3 separate regions of the Homo sapiens genome follow, and all the other regions are reported to be linked to region 3. The links are microRNA targets in miRTarBase. Many come from high-throughput screens and were not tested one by one. Region 3 holds a microRNA gene; each other region holds the end of a gene's coding sequence.
What was found. Region 3 holds the annotated microRNA hsa-miR-4253 (AGGGCAUGUCCAGGGGGU, at 2,054-2,071, shown strand). A microRNA usually pairs through its seed, bases 2 to 8, with sites in the 3' UTR of a target mRNA and lowers its output. Matches are read on the target gene's strand: a 7mer-m8 pairs with bases 2 to 8, a 7mer-A1 pairs with bases 2 to 7 and ends in A, and an 8mer does both.

Region 1 (3,351 bases), not on the chromosome of region 3:
ATACCCTCTTGCCTCAGGCTGTTTTTATAGGCGGCGGCCTACCCTATTTCTCCCAGATAAGTCCTAATCCTTTTGTGGTTCTCAATTTAAAGCTTCTGGGAAGACTTCCCTGGCTTCTCCACTTCCAGCTGAAGTTAGATGCTCCTCTGCATTCTCAGCATCTTGTACTTCCCCCATCTTAGCACTTGACACTCATGGTAGCCACAGATATTTGCAGAATGAACACATAAATGAGACATTTCAAGTGGGGACAAGCATGGGGAAATAGACATCTCCCACCTCACCTGTGTCCATTTCCTCTCCTTTCTCTTGCAGCAAGTCAAAACCGTGAGATTTCAGAATTACAGCCCTCCTCCCACCAAACATTACACCTCCCATCCCACCTCCGGAAAGCCTGAACAGCCAGCCACCCTCAAGGCGTCCCAGCCTGAAGCAGCGTCCTTGGGCCCAGAGATGACCGTCCTATTTGCCCACCGAAGTGGCTGCCACTCCGGACAGCAGACAGACCTCCGGAGAAAGTCAGCTCTTGGCAAGGCCACAACCCTGGTGTCCACTGCCTCAGGCACGCAGACCGTGTTTCCCAGCAAATGAACCTACGGGTGGCTTTTCCTAGACCCCAAAGAGGTGAATTGCATTTAAATACAGTCTGCCTCCACTGAGGGCATCCTGCCATTCTTTGGGGACTTGAGCATGGGTCCTTGTTCTTCCTATTTCACCTCCAGGAAAGCAAAAGTGGGAGCAGAAATTCCTGCCCTGGGTGGGAGGATAGATGGCGTGGCCTTCCAAACATACAAACATAATGATTTGATGCCACAAAGCTCGCTTACTCAGACCAAGGAGTGAAAAATTGTCGTGCCCACTTTATGCCCCAGCATGGAGTATGTGGCCTCTTGTCATCCCCGTGTTACTGTGTAGAATTTCTATGGTGTCCTAAAGGGGGCTGCAGCAGGGGTGTGACAACGGTGGGATTGTTGGCGTTGCTTCTTTGACCTTACAATATCCTCAACAAGCATTAGAACAACTTCTGCCATCTTCTGGGGCCTGTACACTGGCCACTAGTAGCTGCCATATCTTTTTCCCTCTGTAAAGTCATAATCCTGGCTGCAAAGGGAGGATTTCTGCGCGGGGTGTGAGGTGGATACTTTGAACATTCTGAGAACCCAATAAAACTAGAAGGAGCCAGCTTCCTGAGTATGCTCCACTTAAGAAGGTCAGAGAGATCACTGAGTACCAAATATCAAAGGATTATCATACTTTAAGCTTCTCGATCCATTTTCCCACATATAATCCTATGCAATAGATAAGCAGAAAGCATGTGGCTGTGGATAGGGCCATGTATGGCATTATGGACAATTAATTCATCCTGGCTCTACAGTCTGACTTCAAGAAAACACAGCGTGCTTACAAACAATCTTATATGGGGTTAGGGTTTAGATATATAGTCTGACTTCAAGAAAGCACAACGTGGGCCAGGTGCAGTGGCTCATGCCTATAATCCTGGCACTTTGGTAGGCCGAGGTGGGCAGACCACTTGAGGTCAGGAGTTTGAGACCAGCCTGGCCAACATGATCAAACCCCATCTCTACTAAAAATACAAAAATTAGCCAGGCATGATGGCGCACACCTGTAATCCCAGCTACTCTTGAGGCCGAGGCATGAAAATAGCTTGAACCCGGGAGGCGGAGATTACAGTGAACCAAGATTGCACCACTGCACTCCAGCCTGGGTGACAGAGTGAGATTCTGTCTAAAAAAAGAAAAAAGAAAAAAAGAAAGCACAACATGCTAAAAAACAACTTTATATGGGGTTGGGGTTAGGATCTATATTTGGATATATATTGTTTGCATTGCAATATTCCTGACTTTCCCTGCTTTCTTCTCACTTGGGGCAGATGAGCTATTTCACTCACAAGGCAACAACACCAGTGCGAACATGGCAGCCCGAGGCTGGGGTGGGAGTGCTTCCTAGGGGAAAGCTGCTATAAAAAGGGTAGGACAAAGAAGGCTGGAGGAGAAAACAGGGGAGAGGAGAAGGAGAAAGAGGAGGGGTTAAAGAAAATGTGGAGGAAAGAAAGTAGGCATAAGAGTAAGAGTGAAAGAGGATTGAGGGAAAGCACAGGAAGAGGCTAAAGGAGACAAGGGGTGGGGCAACCTTACATTCCCTGACAGGGTGAGGAAAGAAGGACAGAGCCTGCGATGAAGAATGGGGCAAAATTAGATGACCCCACTAAGATGGAACTGACGTGAGCAGGACCAGCCAGGGAGAGCCTTGTAATCAGGGTAGAGGAGGCATCCCAGGAAGCCAAGGCAATGCTGTGAGACAACCCATTAATTCTCATTAAACTTAATTGTTGTGATTTAACATTTATTGCATGCCCATCAATGTGGGCACTTTAACGCAGAAATAACATTTGCTACTAAGGCTGGGTGCCATAGAAAGAAAGAAAAAGAAAGGAAGGAGGGAAGGAAGGAAGGGGGAGAGAGAGAGAGAGAGAGAGAGAGAGAGGGAGAGAGAGAGAGGAGAGAGAGAGAGAAAGAAAGAGAGAGAGAGAAAGAGAAAGAAAGAAAGAAAGAAAGAAAGAAAGAAAGAAAGAAAGAAAGAAAGAAAGAAAGAAAGAAAGGAAGGAAGGAAGGAAGGAAGGAAGGAAGGAAGGAAGGAAGGAAGGAAAGGAAGGAAGGAAGGAAGGAAGGAAGGAAGGAAAGAAAGAAAGAAAGAAAGAAAGAAAGAAAGAAAGAAAGAAAGAAAGAAAGAAAGAGAAAGAAAAAGAAAAAGATGCAGGGAGGGAGGGAGGAAGGGGCATGTCTAATTAGACCTTTCCCCTAGATAGTTCTTGAAAGTCCTGGGATTCAAAACATGTATCTTTTACACACCCACTCACACACTCGGCAAACAGAATTGTCCACAGACTTTTTCCAGACCTTAATAAAACAAAACAAAACCATACTCCTCCCATAAAATACTGCCATTGTGTCAGACCTTTGGGGCTGGTAGAGCCAACATGACAGCACGTTGTTCTAGCTATCTCAATCACGTTTGGGTCCACATCTCACAAACTTTGGGTCAATATCTGATGTTTGTGGACCCAAACAAACATGAGATATTGACCCATTAGGTCCACAAAATCAACATGCCCAAATCCATGCCTCATTGAACTAAATATAATAATCCAGATGGAGAAATGAGATAAAGTCCCAAGGACAGGGAGGCATTGTGTGATTTGTCAAAATATAAGTACCTATACCTCATCTTTACCCAAAAAGCACTCTCAATGAGTTTAGCAATGTTTAGCAGTCTACTCTACACTCAGAGTGGCACAGATATGGCATGACTGGCCGACCAAATATTTAGTCT
Region 2 (3,351 bases), not on the chromosome of region 3:
GCAGATAATGACCTTTTTTTTGGTTCTTAAAGCAATAGATGGGTTGCACAAAAGATGTCTGCAGAATTTGGCCTGTGAGTGATGAGTTTGTGATCTTTTACTTAGAGTTCAAAGTCCAGTCCACATTCCTTTTTTTAACTTTTTTTTTTTTGAGATGGAGTCTTGCTCTGTCACCCAGGCTGGAGTGCAGTGGCACAATCTCAGCTTACTGCAACTTCCACCTCCCAGGTTCAAGCGATTCTCCTGCCTCAGCCTTCTGACTAGCTAGGATTACAGGTACCCACCACCATGCCTGGCTAATTTTTTGTATTTTTAGTAGAGACAAGGCTTCACCATGTTGTCCAGGCTGGTCTCATCTCCTGACCTCATTATCCGCCCGCCTCAGCCTTCCAAAGTGCTGGGTGGGATTATAAGCATGAACCACCACACCCAGCCCCTTTTTAAACTCTTAAACAGACACTGGATTCTATGTATCAAAAGGAAAGTTGATGAAAATATTACAACCAACCTGGTTTTTGTTTGTTTTAATAAAGGAACTAGAAGATCTTCTGCCATCTAGACCGGAAGTTCCTAACATAATTGGAGAAACAGAGGAGGTAGAGCTTCAGGAATTTGATAGCACTCGAGGCTCAGGAGGTGGTCAGAGGCGTGAAGCCTATAATGATAGCTCTGATGAAGAAAGCAGCAGCCATCATGGACCTGGAGTGCAGTGTGCCCATCAGTAAACTCTGCAAACAAATTGCACAGGTGGATTTTCTTTCCACATTTGCCTGATTTGTTCTCAGCAATCCAGCTGGAGTGTCTTATCAATCCAGATGAACTGAGGGACATCTGTTGGTCTATGTATAACTTTTAAAATTGGTATAGTATCTACAGAGTGTATAATTTAAACTAACCACAAAGCTTTACATCTTCATTTTGACTGTTCCATAGCAGAATAAAGCACTTGAAAGGAAACAAGACTCCCTTTCACACATGGATTATTATAAGTTTCAATCCTGGTATCTGTGCTTGATTTTTATCAGTTTTGTGTAGATTTTTATGTTTCATATTTTAAATTTAAATCCCACATTGTAAAGTTTGTACAATTTGTCCTGAAGCTTTGTGTTTGGCTGCACCTGCATAAGCTGCTACAAATAGAATAAAGAATTTCATAGCCTGTATCTATCATTTAGATGCATGGAAAAAAATGGGCTTTGCACACAATGGGTTTGGAGCTGACTGGGAACAATGGAAAAAATTACATTAGCTGTGGTTGTAAAGTTTTTTTGTTTTTGGTTTTGTTTTTTTTTTCTTTTTTCTTTTTTTTTTTTTTTACCATCTTGTGAAAGGTTTCTGAAACTCGATAATAAAAAGCGGTTGGTGTAAATTATTCTTTTGTGTCACATTTTTAGAAGGAAAAACATAAAAGAATGTATCCTTAGTACTGGTTCTTAAACAGCCCATAAAAACCCATTGGCCTGAAGCTTATATCTCAGGCCTATGCCCATCTTATAGTCTTGGAAGACAAAAGGCTGGTAGAGACAGTCTTCAGTGGCTTCAGTGATGCTCTGTAGAGGCCAGGGTGTCTTGAGTGCTGTAACTCCCAAGCACTGGGCTAGCCTGACTTCTGTATCTCCCTACCACCACCCCCTTAAAAAAATAAGGTAACAGCAAATCTATAGTAAAACCATGTCTGCATAGAACGTGTTCAAATCCTCTGTTTTCATTAAATGTAAAAGATGCTGTCTCCATTAAGTTGAATATTTGGAATTGGAGAAGCCATTGATTATTATTTTGAGTTTCTGTAATGTTTTATAGAAAAGTAAGATGCTTATTCAGAATTTAAGAATGAAGGCAACTGAAATATGCATTGTTGTAGTTATTTATATTTCAAACTAAAAATAAGCAAAAAAAAAAGGCTGGTTTGAGAAAAATCAGGTAAAATTGATGAAACGGATGTTGTGTTTCTCTTTCCATCATCTGGTTTTTACCATTTCACTCAGTAGGTATTTTTAGAACACACTTATTTGAGGAAAGAGACATCAGATGCACAATTTTACATTTATAAAGGAACAAATGGGGAAAACTGAAAACTAAAAATTTTAAATGTATTAAATGCCATCCCTGAGCCTAAATCTAGTATTTGTAGTTTATTTCTAGGTCTGCTAGAACCTGAAAACCTGAATGAAAAAAGGTGTGCTGACACTAATCAAGTCCTGTGAGGTTTAAATTATTGACCTATCCACTCTACCTCCATTGTACAAAAAATATTTTACAACAAGCCTGGGTAAGATTCAACAGCATAGTAGTTTTGTATCCAAGGTTACTTCCCCACAACCACTTTAAACATAAGAAATGTGGTGGCAATATAAAGTTTGTAGCCTTTCCAATAAAGGTTTATAAAACAGTTGTTCAGTGTAGTCTGTCTTTCATTTCTACCCAGGTGTTTTGACTGTAGGCAAGAAAACTACTGGAAGAGAGTTTCTGTTAAGGTGTGTTATTTCACTTGGTCTCCTTGCTCTAGTTTGTAGAGCACCTGTCGAGAGAACCAACCATACAGTGTCACCAGCACAGATAATTTTTTGTAACAGCTTTATTCCAGATATGATTTACATACCATAAAATTTACCACTTTAAAAAATTTGCCACAATTCAGTTGATTTCAGTATATTCAGCCATCTCCACTAATTTCAGAACATTTTCATCAAAGAAGAAACCCTCTATCCATTAAGTCACTTTCTGTTCCATTCTCTCCTCAACTCCTGGTGTAATCACTAATGGCTAATTCTGCTTCTAAATATTTGCCTATTTTGGACATGTTGTATAAATGAGATCAAAATATGTGGCCTTTAGTGATGCATTCATTTAGCTTAATGTTTTCAGGGTTTATCCTTGTCGGCAGCATGGATCAGCACAGTAACAGCAGGGACCTATTCTGAGAAGTGCATGGTTAGGCGGTTTCATCATGCAAACAGAGTGTACTTCCACAAACCTAGGTGGTGTAGCCGACTATACACCTATATGGTGTAGTGTATTGTTCCTAGACTACAAACCTGTACAGCTTGTTAGCATAGGCAGTTGTAACACAATGGTAAGTAAACAGTTTTCTGTTTACCATTTGGTACAGTATAAGTACCTTATATGAGAAAAAGGCCTGGCATGGTGGCTCACGCCTATAATCCCAACACTTTGGGAAGCCGAGGTGGGTGGATCACCTGAGGTCAGGAGTTCAAGACCAGCCTGGCCAACATGGCGAAGCCCTATCTCTACTAAAAACACGAAAATTTGCCGGGTGTGGTGGCATGTGCCTGTAATCCCAGCTACTCGGAGGCTGAGGCCAGAGAATCACTTGAACCCTGGAGGCAGAGG
Region 3 (3,000 bases):
CCCCTGGCCCACGTCGGAAGCACTTACCTGCCTGGTTGGTGGTGATGTTCACAGAGGCGAACTGAGGCGAGAAGGGGCTCTGGTCAGTAACGCCGTTCACAGCCTGGATCTCGAAGGTGTACTGGGTGTGGGCCAGCAGGTCACTGATGTAAATGCGTGGCTCGGTCAGGCCTAGCTGGCGTGGTGCGTACTGTACATTGTCCCCGCAGCGGGTGCAGGCACCCCGGCCCGAGCCACAGCTCTTGCAGATGATGTTGTAGACGAGGTCCTCTCGGCCTCCGGAGTCGCGGGGAGGGGTCCACTCCAGCATGAGGGAGGTCTCATTGACACTGGAAATCACAGCCTGGGGCGCGGAGGGGATGGCTGGGGCGGGGGAGAGGTGTTGGTCAGTGGGGGGCTCAGGGGGTACTATTCCCCATGTGACCACTCTGTGCCCGCTGCTCTGGCTCAGCCCCTCTGAAAGGACTTCCTTAAATTCTTTGTCCTGTCTCCCCACCAGAGAAATGTTTCTAGAATACAAGTTAGCCTGCTGTACATCTGCCCAAACCTTTCTCTCCTCCCAGCTTACAAACTGCTCAGTGTTTGTTACTGAGGATAGTATTTTTGCGTTTGGAATTATACCTGCCCAGTATCTATTTTCTCCTTCTTCCTTAGAACAGCCCAGCTTTATTCATGGTGGCAATATGTCCAGCTAAAAGATGGCATTTCCCAGCCTCCTGTGTTTAAGTGCTTGCCACTGATATAGAGCAGAAGTTGTTGACTAGGGCTGTTTCTTTAAAAAGAGACAGACAGCTATGGCGTGTCCCTTTGTCCTTTCCCTGCTTCTGCTGCCTAAAATGTGGGTGATGGCTGGGACTTCAGCAGCTATGCTGGACTATGAAGTGACGTTAAGAACAGAAACAACAGTGGCTAACACCTGTAATCCCAGCACTTTGGGAGGCCGAGGCAGGCGGATCACCTGAGGTCAGGAGTTCAAGACCAGCCTGGCCAACATAGGAAACCCCGTCTCTACTAAAAATACAAAAAATTAGCCGGGCATGATGGCGGATGCCTGTAATCCCAGTTACTCGGGAGGCTGAGGTGGGAGAACCACTTGAACCCGGGAGGTGGAAGTTGCCATGAGCTGAGATCATGATGCCATTGCATTCCAGAGCCTGGGCGACAGAGTGAAACTCCATCTCAAAAAAAAAAAAAAAAAAAAAAAAGAACAGAAACTAGGTTGGGCGTGGTGGCTCATGCCTGTAATCCAGCACTTTGGGAGGATGCGGGAAGATTCCTTGAGCCCGGGAGTTCAAATCTAGCCTTGGCAACATAGCGAGACCCTGTCTCTACAAAAAATTAGAAAAATTAGCTGGGTGTGGTGGTGCACGCCTGTAATCCCAGGTATTCAGGAGGCTGAGGGCAGAAGGCTGAGGGCACCTGAGCCCAGGAGGTTGAGGCTGCAGTGAGCTAGGATTATGCCATTCTGAATGGCAGAAAGAGCCAGGCCCCAAAGGCCATCGTGGATTGCCCATACTGTCCCAGGACTGTCTACCTTGGGCTCCTTTTGGGTGAGAGAATAAATCCGTACAGTTTCAGCCATAGGGCTCAGCTCTGTTACTTACAGCTGAATGCCATCCCTGACAGATACAGGGGTTGTGACGCTGCGTTCTCAGGCAGTGCCTTCCTAGAGGACCTTGGGCTGTGATTCAGGCAGCTGCTGCCAGGTTAGAACACTGGGCAGCCTTTTCTGCCACATATACTACCTGTGTTGCTTCATCTCCTGCCAAGCCTCCCATCCCCTGTCCCTTTGTGAATCCAGACCTTGACTTTATCTTCCATGTGACTCAGCAGAAGGGGGTAAGGAGCCAGATGCCAGCACTGTGGTGTCTGCAAGGTGGGAGCATGGCCACCCCAGGATGCCCCTTTCTTGAGCACTTTTCCATTTCTCTTCCCACCAGGGAAAGACTGGCTGTAACCGGACGGCACCCAATCCTCACTCTGAGCTTTTCTGCAGGTAGACCTGGGACTCGGCCAGCCATCGCCCTTGAGGGGCCCTAGGACTTACTTGTGCAGGGCATGTCCAGGGGGTCCAGGTCTGCTCTGTAGTAGCCATTGCGGCAGACACAGTTGGTGGCCCCTTCAGAAGTGGTCCGGCTGTTGATGGGACAGTGGGTACAGGCCTCATCCCCTTGGTTGGCCTTGAAAGTCCCAGATGGACAACCTGAGAGAGAAGACAAGGAGAGTCACCAGGAAACTGGATGAAGACTCAGAGAGGTCACGAGCCACGCAGCCTCACGGAGGGGCCACACAGCCTCGCGGAGGGGCCATGCAGCACCACTGCTGGAAAATCTCATCTCTTGAAGGGTTTGAAGTCTCCAGGCCCCAACGTGGGAGTTCTAATTCTGTCAGGGCTCCCTAGTTTCTTGTCCGTGAGCTGTCTAGGGCTCCCAGCAATCTTCCCTCACCTATCCCAGCTTGGCTGTGTCATGGTCTCTAGAATCAATCCTGACCTAGTTAGGAGGCACATCTGAAGATGTCTGGGGCAGTGTGCATGGGTCCTGGTCTTGCTTAATAATGTCTGGCTGGGCCCTGATTCTTAGAACTAGATCCTTGGGTTACAGACAATTAAGATGATTATACGGCAGAAGAAAAGTCCTAGGGCAGTGTAGAGAGGTGATGTGGTAGAATAGAGGAGGACACTACTTTTGGAATAAGACCGACCTGGCTTTGAGTACTGGCTAGGCCTTTTACTAGCTGTGCAGCCCCAGACAAGCTGCTTAACTACTCAGACTCAGTTTTCTTATTTGTAAAATTAGGATTCTAAGGCCCATCTCTGCAGGGTCATTGTGAGTATTCTGCTTAAGCGTAAGGCCCATGGCACAAGGCCTTGCACAGTATAGGTGCCCAATGAATATGTGATCAATTTATTAAAATATTAATAAAAGGCGGGCCTGCAGTACCAGGGCCAGCCTAAGGAGGGCACTGCTTGCACTCGGCCCTCATTTGGCTTCTCCCATG

Region 1: the mRNA of SH3RF2 is a reported target of hsa-miR-4253. The part of its 3' UTR that is shown has no 7-base or 8-base seed match.
Region 2: miRTarBase lists DNAJA2 as a target of hsa-miR-4253. Seed matches in the 3' UTR shown: 7mer-A1 at 1,483-1,489.

What each region holds. Positions count from the first base shown.
Region 1 is chr5:146,062,111-146,065,461 of GRCh38, forward strand. SH3RF2 (SH3 domain containing ring finger 2) reads left to right here. Exons shown (of 10, transcript NM_152550.4): 10 at 316-1,182. The coding sequence ends at 591. The region is part of intron 1 of LOC107986458 (a long non-coding RNA gene); the gene reads right to left. Among named protein-coding and RNA genes, the nearest start is that of PLAC8L1, 42 kb to the right of the region's middle.
Region 2 is chr16:46,954,403-46,957,753 of GRCh38, reverse strand. DNAJA2 (DnaJ heat shock protein family (Hsp40) member A2) reads left to right here. Exons shown (of 9, transcript NM_005880.4): 9 at 534-2,392. The coding sequence ends at 725. Among named protein-coding and RNA genes, the nearest start is that of DNAJA2, 18 kb to the left of the region's middle.
Region 3 is chr1:22,862,240-22,865,239 of GRCh38, reverse strand. It overlaps MIR4253 (microRNA 4253), which reads left to right and starts at 2,014; the gene lies at 2,014-2,081. EPHB2 (EPH receptor B2) reads right to left here. Exons shown (of 16, transcript NM_017449.5): 4 at 2,048-2,203; 5 at 28-363. RefSeq lists a silencer at 1-215.